Homo sapiens: one gene and its partner. Each later gene encodes a partner of the first gene's protein in a complex. Each region holds a gene or a part of one and is shown in the gene's direction. Other genes may lie near its edges. The genes, in order: DTL and PCNA.

Region 1 (4,057 bases):
TCATTGACTGACTTAATATTTAAATTAGATAATATCAGTCATCAGTGATTGATGGCAGAAATAGGTTTGTGAACCTTGAAAAACAAGATTCATTACAGTGGTGGAGGCAGAAGTAGCTGAGTGCATTGGGTGAGCTATGGGCACCAGTCAGAGAGAATAAAAAGCTTCTGTTGTTTGCATGTGAAGGGGAGATGGGTTAAGGAAGTTTCCACTGTACTTCACAGTAGCTCTTGTGGTGGCGGGATGATTGAAATAGAATCCAGAATCATGATCAGCATCATCTGCCATTTTAAAGGGCAGAAGCTAGATAACCAACCTTAGGCCAGTTTTAGTTTAAAAAGTGTTCATAACCCCGACCTGCTCTCATGAAGACCTATCCCATAATTTTAGAAAAATAAACTGATAGATTTTAAAGACAACTTAGTACACAAACTGCAATCAAGACCTTGCTGTAGAAAGTGGAGAAAAAAGACAGTTATAAGGAATCTTTCCTTCTCTCAAAATTATGACTGCTCTTTATCCCTAGCCAAAATTTCTATTTTTTTTTTCAAGGGAGCTGGTCTCAGCTATGTGTTAGCAGAAAAGTAGTTTCAATGAAAAACTATTTTCACTGATACATAAATCTTAAAATCTTTAAAAAGTAGAAACAGTGTGCTGGTCTTGTAATTTATTTGAAGCTAACATTTCTTAAAAATTTTTTACCTTTATATGATGATAATGTCAACCTTCAGAAGAGAGTAACATCTTCCATTTGAATACCTATCTTGTTTATAAATTGGGGGGGCTGATTTATTCATTTATTTCAAAAAGGATAGTAATTGTAACTTATTTGTTTCTTATTAGGAGACTTAGCTAGTAAATGTTTTCTATTCACATAAGAAGTCTATGCCTTCTTTCCCTACATATCATCTGTTAAGTTTTTACTATAGTCAGTACAAATCAGCCAAAAGAGACATTGCCATTGAAAGTATTTGGAGCTGAAAGCAGGCTAAACAATGAAATTTCTGGCAGCCTAATTTAAGGTATGCCTTAGTAATAACTTAGTAACAGTTGAACTTCAAGGAAATCTCTGAAATCTAAACTTTCTTCTTCTAGGTCACCATCACGCCCAGCTCCATGAGGAAAATCTGCACATACTTCCATAGAAAGTCCCAGGAGGACTTCTGTGGTCCTGAACACTCAACAGAATTATAGATTCTAATCTGAGTGAGTTACTGAGCTTTGGTCCACTAAAACAAGCTGAGCTTTGGTCCACTAAAACAAGATGAAAAATACAAGAGTGACTCTATAACTCTGGTCTTTAAGAAAGCTGCCTTTTCATTTTTAGACAAAATCTTTTCAACGCTGAAATGTACCTAATCTGGTTCTACTACCATAATGTATATGCAGCTTCCCGAGGATGAATGCTGTGTTTAAATTTCATAAAGTAAATTTGTCACTCTAGCATTTTGAATGAATAGTCTTCACTTTTTAAATTATTCATCTTCTCTATAATAATGACATCCCAGTTCATGGAGGCAAAAAACAAGTTTCTTGTTATCCTGAAACTTTCTATGCTCAGTGGAAAGTATCTGCCAGCCACAGCATGAGGCCTGTGAAGGCTGACTGAGAAATCCTCTGCTGAAGACCCCTGGTTCTGTTCTGCCTCCAACATGTATAATTTTATTTGAAATACATAATCTTTTCACTATGCTTTTGTGGGGTTTTTTTTAAGTATGTGTAAAAATGTGATGCTCAGATAAGTACATTTATATCAGTTCAGTGTTAAAATGCAGTCTCTTGAGTTAAAGTCATCTTTATTTTAAATGCAGTGATAAATGTCAACTCTTCGGAGAAACTAGGAGAACAACAACAGAAAGCTGTGTTTGTCTTTTTTCTCTCAAATATATCTCCCGTATGAGATTTCAGGTCCCCATGTTTTCACCAAGCAATCTGCTATGTCAGCCAACCCAACATCACTTTCTACAGGAGGTTATGATTTTTGCCATTTACTAGAGGAAGATGTTTTATGAAATCAATTTGGGGTTTGAATTCAGGTGCAGTCATCAGTTCTTTAGGGGCTGCAATGTTTTAAAAAAAATAAGTCATCAGATTTTAAGAAAAAAGTGATGATTTCTTATTGATATTTTTGTAACAGAATATAGCTCTTAACTGAAAATCCAGAACCAGAAACATAAATCTTGAGTTTCTTTTCATGTACATAAAAAGCAATAGCCTTTTAGTATAGATAGCCCTGAGCCAAAAAGTAATAGAATTTTCTCTAGATATTTAATACAGAGAGTGTATAGACTGACTCTAAGTTAATAATGTGCAAAATATCTTAAACATCCCTCCCCTTATTCAACAATTATGTATCAGTGATCTTGAACCATTGTTTTATATTTTTCACCTTTGTAACCTCATGGAAAGAGGCTTTACATACTTTCTATGTACTATTTACTTAGAAGGGAGCCCCCTTCCAGTCATGAAACTTCATTTGTTTTATCCATATCCCTGAGGACTGTGTAGACTTTATGTCAGTTTTTGTCATTATTTGAAAATCTATTCTGACAACTTTTTAATTCCTTTGATCTTATAAGTTAAAGCTGTAACAACTGAAATTGCATGGATCAAGTAAGCATAGTTTTATCCAGGGAGAAAAATAAAAGGAAGCCATAGAATTGCTCTGGTCAAAACCAAGCACACCATAGCCTTAACTGAATATTTAGGAAATCTGCCTAATCTGCTTATATTTGGTGTTTGTTTTTTGACTGTTGGGCTTTGGGAAGATGTTATTTATGACCAATATCTGCCAGTAACGCTGTTTATCTCACTTGCTTTGAAAGCCAATGGGGGAAAAAAATCCATGAAAAAAAAAAGATTGATAAAGTAGATGATTTTGTTTGTATCCCTACCCATCTCCTGGCAGCCCTACTGAGTGAAATTGGGATACATTTGGCTGTCAGAAATTATACCGAGTCTACTGGGTATAACATGTCTCACTTGGAAAGCTAGTACTTTTAAATGGGTGCCAAAGGTCAACTGTAATGAGATAATTATCCCTGCCTGTGTCCATGTCAGACTTTGAGCTGATCCTGAATAATAAAGCCTTTTACCTTATCTGATGTCCTTTTCTGAGCTTTTTGCATTACCTAGAAGCAGTCTACAAAAAAGAACTATAGTAGTCAAGAATCCCTTCTACTTGTTCATTAAAATGTTTATTCCCAAAGTTATAATCTATTTCAAGCTGAAAGAGCTTTTAATAAAAAACATCTTGCTTGGATCAGACTTTGAGCATTTAAGATGGCTTGGATTACTTGATAAAGCAGGGTGGAGTGATGTAGTTCTTTTTCTAAACAAGTATTTCCAGCACAAACTTTTCCATTTGAATACATTCCAAGCACTATTGCTAGGATCCCGTATTAGAGTTTGCTTTTGGCTGTTTCAACACGGGCCCTTAATTAAATTTTGTGAGGATGACTGATTAGTGTCTTCAAATGTCTCTTCATCTGGACTGCACATTTAACTGATGTTGGATCAAGACCATGTGTAGCTACTCTTGTGTTGAGGGTCAGCCCATTATCCCCATCCCCAGCCCTAACAGCTTAAAACAGCTTTAACTCCCATCTTGAAATTAGCCTATGGCCATGTTCATAACATAGGTAGTGTGTGGGTTCAACAAATGCTTTTTGAGAGCCTGTCATAGCCAACACACTACTGCTCTTAAGTCTGTTTTTCTGCTTTTCCTAGTCCCTAGTTCCTTTTACATTGCTCTTAAAGCAAAGGCCAAGTAGTCTAACAGAGAAAAATAAATTCCACAACTAAGATAGTGTGGGCAACATTTTACAAATGTGTGTCAGAAGACAGACTGAGTGAAAACATTGTACTAGAAAAACTGAGTTAATTTCCTCCCTATGGCAATTCAACACAAGTGGTTTCTGCTTCATAATTCCATAAAGGGCTAAATGTAGGCCCAGTTGAGCTCTTGCAGTAGATCTCATTGCTTCTCACACAGGTCTTCACAGGGAATTCTTTGCCTGCCCTAGGTTTGGATCATGCCACATTACCAATTAACCCA
Region 2 (8,054 bases), on another chromosome or scaffold:
ATGCACATAAGTCAGAATTATAGAATGCACAGCATGATTACTAGGATGGATAACATGTGGTCTGAACAAACTTCTCATCCATTACACTCAGCCCTCTCAGGTTAATGGAACTCAGATCAAGTATATTCCTGAAGTCAGTACTGTGTGACGAACAGGGGTCTGGTGGAAGTGATGCTAATAGGGCTTTAGGCCAGCTTTAGAGCCCTTCTCTCTCTCTCTTTTCGTTTTTTGTTTTCTTTTTGTTTGTTTTTTGTTTTTTTTTTTTAGACAGTTTCCCTCTTGTTGCTCAGGCTGGAGTGCAATGGTGTGATCTCGGCTCACTGCAACCTCCGCCTCCCAGGTTCAAGCAATTCTCCTGTCTCAGCCTCCCGAGTAGCTGGGACTACAGGCGCCCGCCACCACAGCTGGCTAATTTTTGTATTTTTAGTAGAGACAGGGGTTTTAGGTCAGGCTGGTTTTGAATTCTTGACCTCAGGTGATCCGCCCACCTGGGCCTCCCAAAGTGCTGGGATTACAGGCATCAGCCACTGCACCTGGCTCAAGAAACATTCTTAAGCATGCTTGATCTTGGTAAATGCCCCTGATTTCTTCTGTAGGAAAAAACCCTAGAGATCGAATTTCTGTGTCAAAGAATAAGTAAAATTCTAAGGCTTTTGATACACATTTCTAAGTTTCCACCAGAAAAATTATACCAATGTATACTCCCACTTGCAATGTATTTAAGTGCCTACTTCCTTGAATCCTTCCTAACACACCAGGTGTTAACATGATTTTTATTAATTTGGTAGGTTAAAATTCTGTCTCCATTGAATTTACATTTCTTTGCTTATTAATGTGGCTAACAAACTTCACGTTTATGAAGACTAGGACTGGACAGTGGAGGCCAGATACCTCTGGCTTTTTGTTTAGATGAATAAATTTTCTATTTCTCTTAATCCATTCAAGTTGAGTTCTCTGTCACTGAAACCTAAACTATACTAACCAATATAATCCTTTGAGGCATACTGAAGTCTTAAAACTTGTATGGTTATTCATTATGTTTTATGGGTTTTTTTCTTATGTTTGGAAGCCCATAGGAAGATCTCATAAATATTTACCAAAATATTTTTCCATTTCTTATTGGGTCAAGATTTGAATTTGAATTCTTTATCTAGAATTTAGTGAATAATTATTAGGAAAAGTCTTTTTTTTTTTTTTTGAGATGGAGGTTTGCTCTGTCACCCAGGCTGGAGTACAGTGGCGCAATCTTGGTTCACTGCAACCTCTGCCTCCCGGGTTCAAGCAATTCTCCTGCGTCAGCCTCCCTAGTATCTGGAATTACAGGTGTGCACCACCACGCCCAGCTAATTTTTGTATTTTTAGTAGAGACGGGGTTTCACCATGTTGGCCTGGCTGGTCTCGAACTCCTGACCTCAGATGATCCACCTACCTCAGCCTCCCAAAGTTCTGGGATTACAGGCATGAGCCACTGCGCCCATCCAGAAAAGTCTACAGCTTTTATTCTTTTCTAATAGTTTAACCAATTATCTGATCAAAATTTACTTCATTCTTTCTCCCACTGATCCAATAGTACCTTTACTAGATGTTAGAGTAGCCACTTAAAATGTAAATTGGATCACATCAAAGATCTGCTGTTGACCACATTCCCTTGCACTTTTAGAGAGCCTACAAAGTCCTGCAAGAGCTCACCCCAGCCTCTCTGCAACCTCACCTTGCACCACTCTTGCTTCAGACACATCAGTCTGAGTTCTACATCAAACTTGTCTGAATATATTCCAAGTATGCTGACCTTTATAATCATGCTATTCTCTCAGCCTAGAATGCTTTTTTCCAACTCTCCAAGCAGCTGTCTTCTCTGATAAGATGCTACCTCCTCAGAGAGGCCTTCTCTGACCACAGTCATAGGCATGTTTATGTCCTCATTTCAGTTTAACATAAAATTTACGTAACTGTACACCTCTTTATCATTTGACACTTTTAGGAGGACATCACTTCTGTAATAGAGCAGAAATAAACAGATTGATGTACATGGTGGATCCCCCATGGATAGAGTTTGTCATTTAAAATGTCTTCAAATCTATTACATGTAATTTGGCATTAAACCAAAATGTTATTATGTAAGCAGACAGAACTGAAACAGAGTAGTGGAGCATATGCATTTGTTTTTAGTGAAGCAAATGTTCCTCACTGGAGGAAGGAACACATTCCACATTTTGCAAAGGAACTGAGATTTTAACGGACCCAAGAAAGGAAAAGAACCACAAACAGATGATGCTGTATTATGTTTTGATATTGAGATGTATGCAAATGGGTAGTCCATCACACATAAAGCAAGAAAGTGCCAACATCAAAACTTACAAATGAGTAGCAGAGGCTTGCAAGAAATTCCAGAGACAATAGAATAGCACTATTGAAAAATACTGCATCATCAATACCCTTGACAACACAGAGTAGGATATTATACAGAAAAACAGCAGAATCAGCAACTAACTGAGTGGAGAAACAGTAGGAATGCCTTAACCAATGTAGCTTAAATTTTTTCATGTTTGCACAAGAGTAATATATAATAAGAATGTTTTTAAAGTCTAAAAGTTCTTTTAAAACAAAATAGACCCGGGCGCGGTGGCTCATGCCTGTAATCCCAGCACTTTGGGAGGCCAAGGCAGGCAGATCACATGAGGTCAGGAGTTCAAGACCAACCTGGCCAACATGGCAAAACCCCGTCTCTACTAAAAATACAAAAATTAGCCAGGTGTGATGGCGCATGCCTGTAATCCTAGCTATTCAGGAGGCTGAGGCATGAGAATTGCTTGAACCCAGGAGGCGGAGATTGCGGTTAGCCAAGATCACACCACTGCACTCCAGCCTGGGTGATAGAGTGAGACTCTGTCTCAGAAAAAAAAAAAAGAAAAAGAAAAAGAAAAAAAAAAAGAAATTCTAAGTGATAAAGCATTGTGTAACAGTTTGAGGCTGGGCACAGTGGCTCATGCCTGTAATCTCACACTTTGGGAGACCGATTGGGAAGATTGCTTGAGCCCAGGAGTTGGAGACCAGCCAGAGCGACATAGTGGGACCTTCTCTCTACAAAAACATTTAAAAATTAGCCAGGTACAGTGGTGCACCCCTGTAGTCCCAGCTATTTGGGAGGTGGCAAGAGGATCTCTCGAGCCTAGAAGTTGGAGGTGGCAGTGAGTAGTCATCTTGCCACTGCACTCCAGCCTGGGTGTCAAAGGGAGACTCCCCTCTCTAGAAAATAATAAAAAAAAAAGTTTGACAGTTTTCTTGCTTGTGCTACATAAAATAATGGTACATATTACAATTGAAGGCATCTTATAATAGAAATGCCCTTTCCTGTTCCCTTTTAAGGCTGACCCAGTGCTTTAAGAGGCTGATACAGAAGGGTAAAGTTAAGTCTCCACAAAATCCAGGGAAGAGACTGTGAAACTCATCTTAGAACCTTGTATGGAGTCACAGCTGAACTAGGAAAAAAAAAAAAAAAAAAAAAAGGAAAGAAAGGCATTCCAGAGATAAAGAATAGACTAAGGAGAGGAGATATTTGAAGCCATAATGATTGAGAATATGTCAGACTTGAAATGAATCTTCAGTTCCCTCAACAAGACAAATAAAACTAACTCCATACCTAGATACATGGTAGAAAAACTAAAGAATTCTGCTGACCAAGGTATTAAAAGTAACTAAAGAGAAGTGGTGTGAAGAAAGCAAGAGAGAAACAACAAATCCTGTCCATCCTGTAACAATTGAAAATTTCTGGCTGGGCGTGGTGGCTCACGCCTGTAATCCCAGCACTTTGAGAGGCCGAGGCAGGTGGATCACCTCAGGTCAGGTGTTCAAGACCAGCCTGGCCAACATGGTGAAACCCCGTCTCTACTAAAAAAAAATAATAATAATAATACAAAAATTAGCCGGGGGTGGTGGTAGGCACCTGTAATCCCAGATACTCGGGAGGCTGAGGCAGGAGACTCACTTGAACCTGGGAGGCGGAGGTTGCAATGAGCTGAGATCGCGCCACTGTACTCCAGCCTGGATGACAGAGCAGGACTCCATCTCAAAAAGAAAGGAAAAGAAAAGAAAAAATATTAAATGTGTACGCTCTTTGACTCAGCTGTATTACTTCAAGGAGTTGATATCACCAAAATTGCCTAAGTGCTCAAAGGTGTTTGTAGTTAAACAACAGGAGATTGATAAATTATGTTATATACATGTGATGCTATGTTTTAAAGAGGTACTGATATGATAAAAGATGTACGTGGCATAAAATTAAATGTACTTTATTAAGTACTTTTCCAAGTGTTTACGGAATGAGTGCATTTTTGAAAAAAAAAAAGTGTATTCGAACTTTTAAAAAAGCTTTAAAAGCTTTATACAATGAACGATTGAGTGATTATAAGAGCTGGCGGGGGAATGTTAAGAGGATGATAGGGAGCTAAGTTTAACAGAACAATTCACCTCTTTATCTTGTGACACCTACGAGCGCATCAATTCTGTAATTGAAAAATAAAGTGCATATTTGCAGCAGCTGTACTCTCTTCAGGCTGCAAGGAGGCTTTTCCTCCCGGTAGGCTTGATTTGCATTTCACTTTCACTTTCGTGGCTGGAAACTTTCTACCCACGTAGTGGGAGGCTGAGGAGCCACCATAAAGCTGGGGCTTGACGAGCCGGGACCGGGACCCGATCTCCACATATGCCCGGACTTGTTCTGCGGCCGGGTTCAGGAGTCAAAGAGGCGGGGAGACCTGCGCGACGCTGCCCCGCCCTGCGCCCGCTTCCTCCAATGTATGCTCTAGGGGGCGGGCCTCGCGGGGAGCATGGACACGATTGGCCCTAAAGTCTTCCCCGCAAGGCCGTGGGCTGGACAGCGTGGTGACGTCGCAACGCGGCGCAGGGTGAGAGCGCGCGCTTGCGGACGCGGCGGCATTAAACGGTTGCAGGCGTAGCAGAGTGGTCGTTGTCTTTCTAGGTCTCAGCCGGTCGTCGCGACGTTCGCCCGCTCGCTCTGAGGCTCCTGAAGCCGAAACCAGCTAGACTTTCCTCCTTCCCGCCTGCCTGTAGCGGCGTTGTTGCCACTCCGCCACCATGTTCGAGGCGCGCCTGGTCCAGGGCTCCATCCTCAAGAAGGTGTTGGAGGCACTCAAGGACCTCATCAACGAGGCCTGCTGGGATATTAGCTCCAGCGGTGTAAACCTGCAGAGCATGGACTCGTCCCACGTCTCTTTGGTGCAGCTCACCCTGCGGTCTGAGGGCTTCGACACCTACCGCTGCGACCGCAACCTGGCCATGGGCGTGAACCTCACCAGGTGAGCCTCGCGGCCCCGGGAAGCCGGCCCCGGCCCGCCTGCACCTCCGGTGCTTGGCGGGAGCGCTTTCGAGCCTAGCCCTCATTGGCTGGCGTGGGCCATCCGCGCCTTCTCATTGGCCTGCCACGCAGTGGGGTGGGGCCCAGCTGAGCGCGCGGTTCGGAAAAGCCCGCGCTGGCTGCTGCGCGAACCTGCTTTTTCGCGCCAAAGTCACAAAGCGGGTGGTGGCGGGAAAATCAAGGGTTTTTCCGCAGTGCCAGGAACACTGTTCCAGGGCTCTTTGCTCACTAAATCCTGTTGGCCTTGAATGGACGCTTTAGCTGTGGCTTTCTTGTTTCTGAGACGGTCTCGGTGTGTTGCCCGGGCTGGTCTCCAACTTCTGGGCTCAAGCGATCCTCCCGGCTCAGTCGCGGTTGACTTTAAATGCTTTATAATGCCCTTGCGAGAAATGTGGCAGCCTGTCATCCTACTTAGTGGCAGGAGATTGTTTCTATCCAGAAGGGACACTGCTGGTGGTATTTTAGTATAAATACTGCCAGATGCGTCCCAAAACGTCTGCATTAATAATGGCATCCTCCAGCAGTCCGCTTACCCTCCACCAGTTCTGAGACGGCCTGATGGGTGAGAGTGGTAACCCCTTCTAACCGCGTTCGAAATACAGCCCTTCAGCAGACGGCGTTGATTTTAAAGCATGTGTCTCCTGTCTTCTAGTATGTCCAAAATACTAAAATGCGCCGGCAATGAAGATATCATTACACTAAGGGCCGAAGATAACGCGGATACCTTGGCGCTAGTATTTGAAGCACCAAGTAAGTCGTACCTTTTTACCGAGTCACGAAGCTACAGAAAATCAAAACTCTGTGTCAGTATTTCTCAAAAGCATCTGCTTTCTTTTGGTAGACCAGGAGAAAGTTTCAGACTATGAAATGAAGTTGATGGATTTAGATGTTGAACAACTTGGAATTCCAGTGAGTATCAGTTTCTCATTGTAGAGAGTGCTGTACACAGGCACGATAGTTATGTCATAGAATGTTTGTTTATTTTTACAGACAGGGTCTTGGCTCTGTTGCCCAGGCTGGAGTGCAGTAGTGCCATATAGCTCTCTCTAACCTGGGATTCCTGGGCTCAAGCAGTCCTCTTGCCTTAGTCTCCTAAGTGGCTAGGAAGGACTACGGGCCTGTCCCACCACACCTGGCTAATTTTTTCATTTTTGTGTGTGGGCGTGGGGGCAGTCTTGCCCAGGCTGGTCTGGAACTCCTGGCCTCAAGTGATCCTCCTCCGTCAAGATATGTTAATATAATTTAAGCCTACTTCATAACAACTTTTTCTAGAAATATATCTACTGGTGCATGTTTCAAAGAGAGATTTTAGTATTTGGATAGTTGTTCACCACAAGTCTAAAACTCACAGGTTAAATTTATTGTTTACTGCCAGTTGTCTATTTGCATTAACTTCCATGAACCTCTTTTAAAATTTGTTTCCTTCTAGAATGCTTGCTTTTTATTAAGTGGATTTTAAAGCTGACTTGGAAGAAATTTATCCAGGTTAGGTTTATAAACACCAAAGGAGAGAAGAAATGTTTGAATGTTGAAAATGCCTAATATATTCTCTTGCTTTCTTTTAGAAAGTAGTTAGGCCTGCTTGCGCCATCATGATTTCTGTGCCATACTCTAATGTTCTCTTACTTTATCCCTGGAGGATGAGGAGGAGGAGGCTCTTGTTCCCTGGATGGTGCATTTAATAGCCATTTATTTTTTTGAGTGGAGTTTGTTAAGAAATTACGCAAGTCATATTTTAAAGTAATCAGAAAATATTGATTCTGAGTTGTTTAGGTGTTGCCTTTTAAGAAAGTGAGGGTGCCAAATCATTAAATTTCTAACAATTAACTTTTGGAAAATTTTTGTTCTTAATAGGAACAGGAGTACAGCTGTGTAGTAAAGATGCCTTCTGGTGAATTTGCACGTATATGCCGAGATCTCAGCCATATTGGAGATGCTGTTGTAATTTCCTGTGCAAAAGACGGAGTGAAATTTTCTGCAAGTGGAGAACTTGGAAATGGAAACATTAAATTGTCACAGACAAGTAATGTCGATAAAGAGGAGGAAGCTGTAAGTAGTTTTTAAGTAAAAAGAAAATAGTTTGAAGAGAATTATAATACTGCTTATTAGGTTAATTGCTAAAATTAAAAGTAGACAGAATTGGATCCCAAGTAATTTCTGAAAATTGAGATACTGTTGAAATCTGCGAATGATTTATAAGTGTCATCCAATTTAGAATTATATTTGCAAGAAGGGAATACAAATTCAGCACGTGTACATACCACAGAACAGTGGTTTATGGATCAAGTCCACACCGGCTCTTAAGGGTAGGATTGGGAAGTTAGGCGTATAACCTTTAGCTTTCTGGAGATACTTACTCTCTTACCAAATAATTGAGCATAGGACAGCAGCTCAATAGAAGGATATGGTTAGGAGTAAAAGTCTACCTGTTTGGAGCACTTATGTAATCCTAATATTAGCTTACATGTTGTGGGTCCAATTGGTAGCCCATTTTAAAGGTGGAGAAGCAGGCTGAGCAACCTTAAGTGACAATTTAGCCAAAGTCACAGGCTGTAGGAATCAAAGGTTAAACAGGAAGGAGACTTCTCACTAAGGCTAGAAAGCAGACTCCATGCAACTTTGAGAGTACCTAGAGAGCCCTTGTTTAACCAAAATAGAAAGAACATGGCAAAACCCCATC

The links.
Region 2: the proteins of DTL (region 1) and PCNA are in contact, whole or in part, in a crystal structure (PDB 6QC0), measured with the Homo sapiens proteins. Residues at the interface, in NP_057532.4 of Homo sapiens: Ser705 (codon at 1,114), Met706 (codon at 1,117), Arg707 (codon at 1,120), Lys708 (codon at 1,123), Ile709 (codon at 1,126), Cys710 (codon at 1,129), Tyr712 (codon at 1,135), Phe713 (codon at 1,138), His714 (codon at 1,141), Arg715 (codon at 1,144); in NP_002583.1 of Homo sapiens: Met40, Ser43, His44, Val45, Ser46, Leu47, Glu124, Gln125, Leu126, Gly127, Ile128, Pro129, Ala208, Tyr211, Asp232, Val233, Pro234, Tyr250, Leu251, Ala252, Pro253, Lys254, Ile255, Glu256.

The regions. Positions count from the first base shown.
Region 1 is NC_000001.11:212,101,747-212,105,803, forward strand, and holds the end of DTL (denticleless protein homolog), read left to right. Parts: intron 1-1,095; coding exon 1,096-1,194; 3' UTR 1,195-3,267; downstream 3,268-4,057. UniProt on the Homo sapiens protein: Substrate-specific adapter of a DCX (DDB1-CUL4-X-box) E3 ubiquitin-protein ligase complex required for cell cycle control, DNA damage response and translesion DNA synthesis.
Region 2 is NC_000020.11:5,116,839-5,124,892, reverse strand, and holds the start of PCNA (proliferating cell nuclear antigen), read left to right. Parts: upstream 1-4,934; 5' UTR 4,935-5,094; coding exon 5,095-5,315; intron 5,316-6,026; coding exon 6,027-6,124; intron 6,125-6,215; coding exon 6,216-6,283; intron 6,284-7,228; coding exon 7,229-7,423; intron 7,424-8,054. UniProt on the Homo sapiens protein: Auxiliary protein of DNA polymerase delta and epsilon, is involved in the control of eukaryotic DNA replication by increasing the polymerase's processibility during elongation of the leading strand.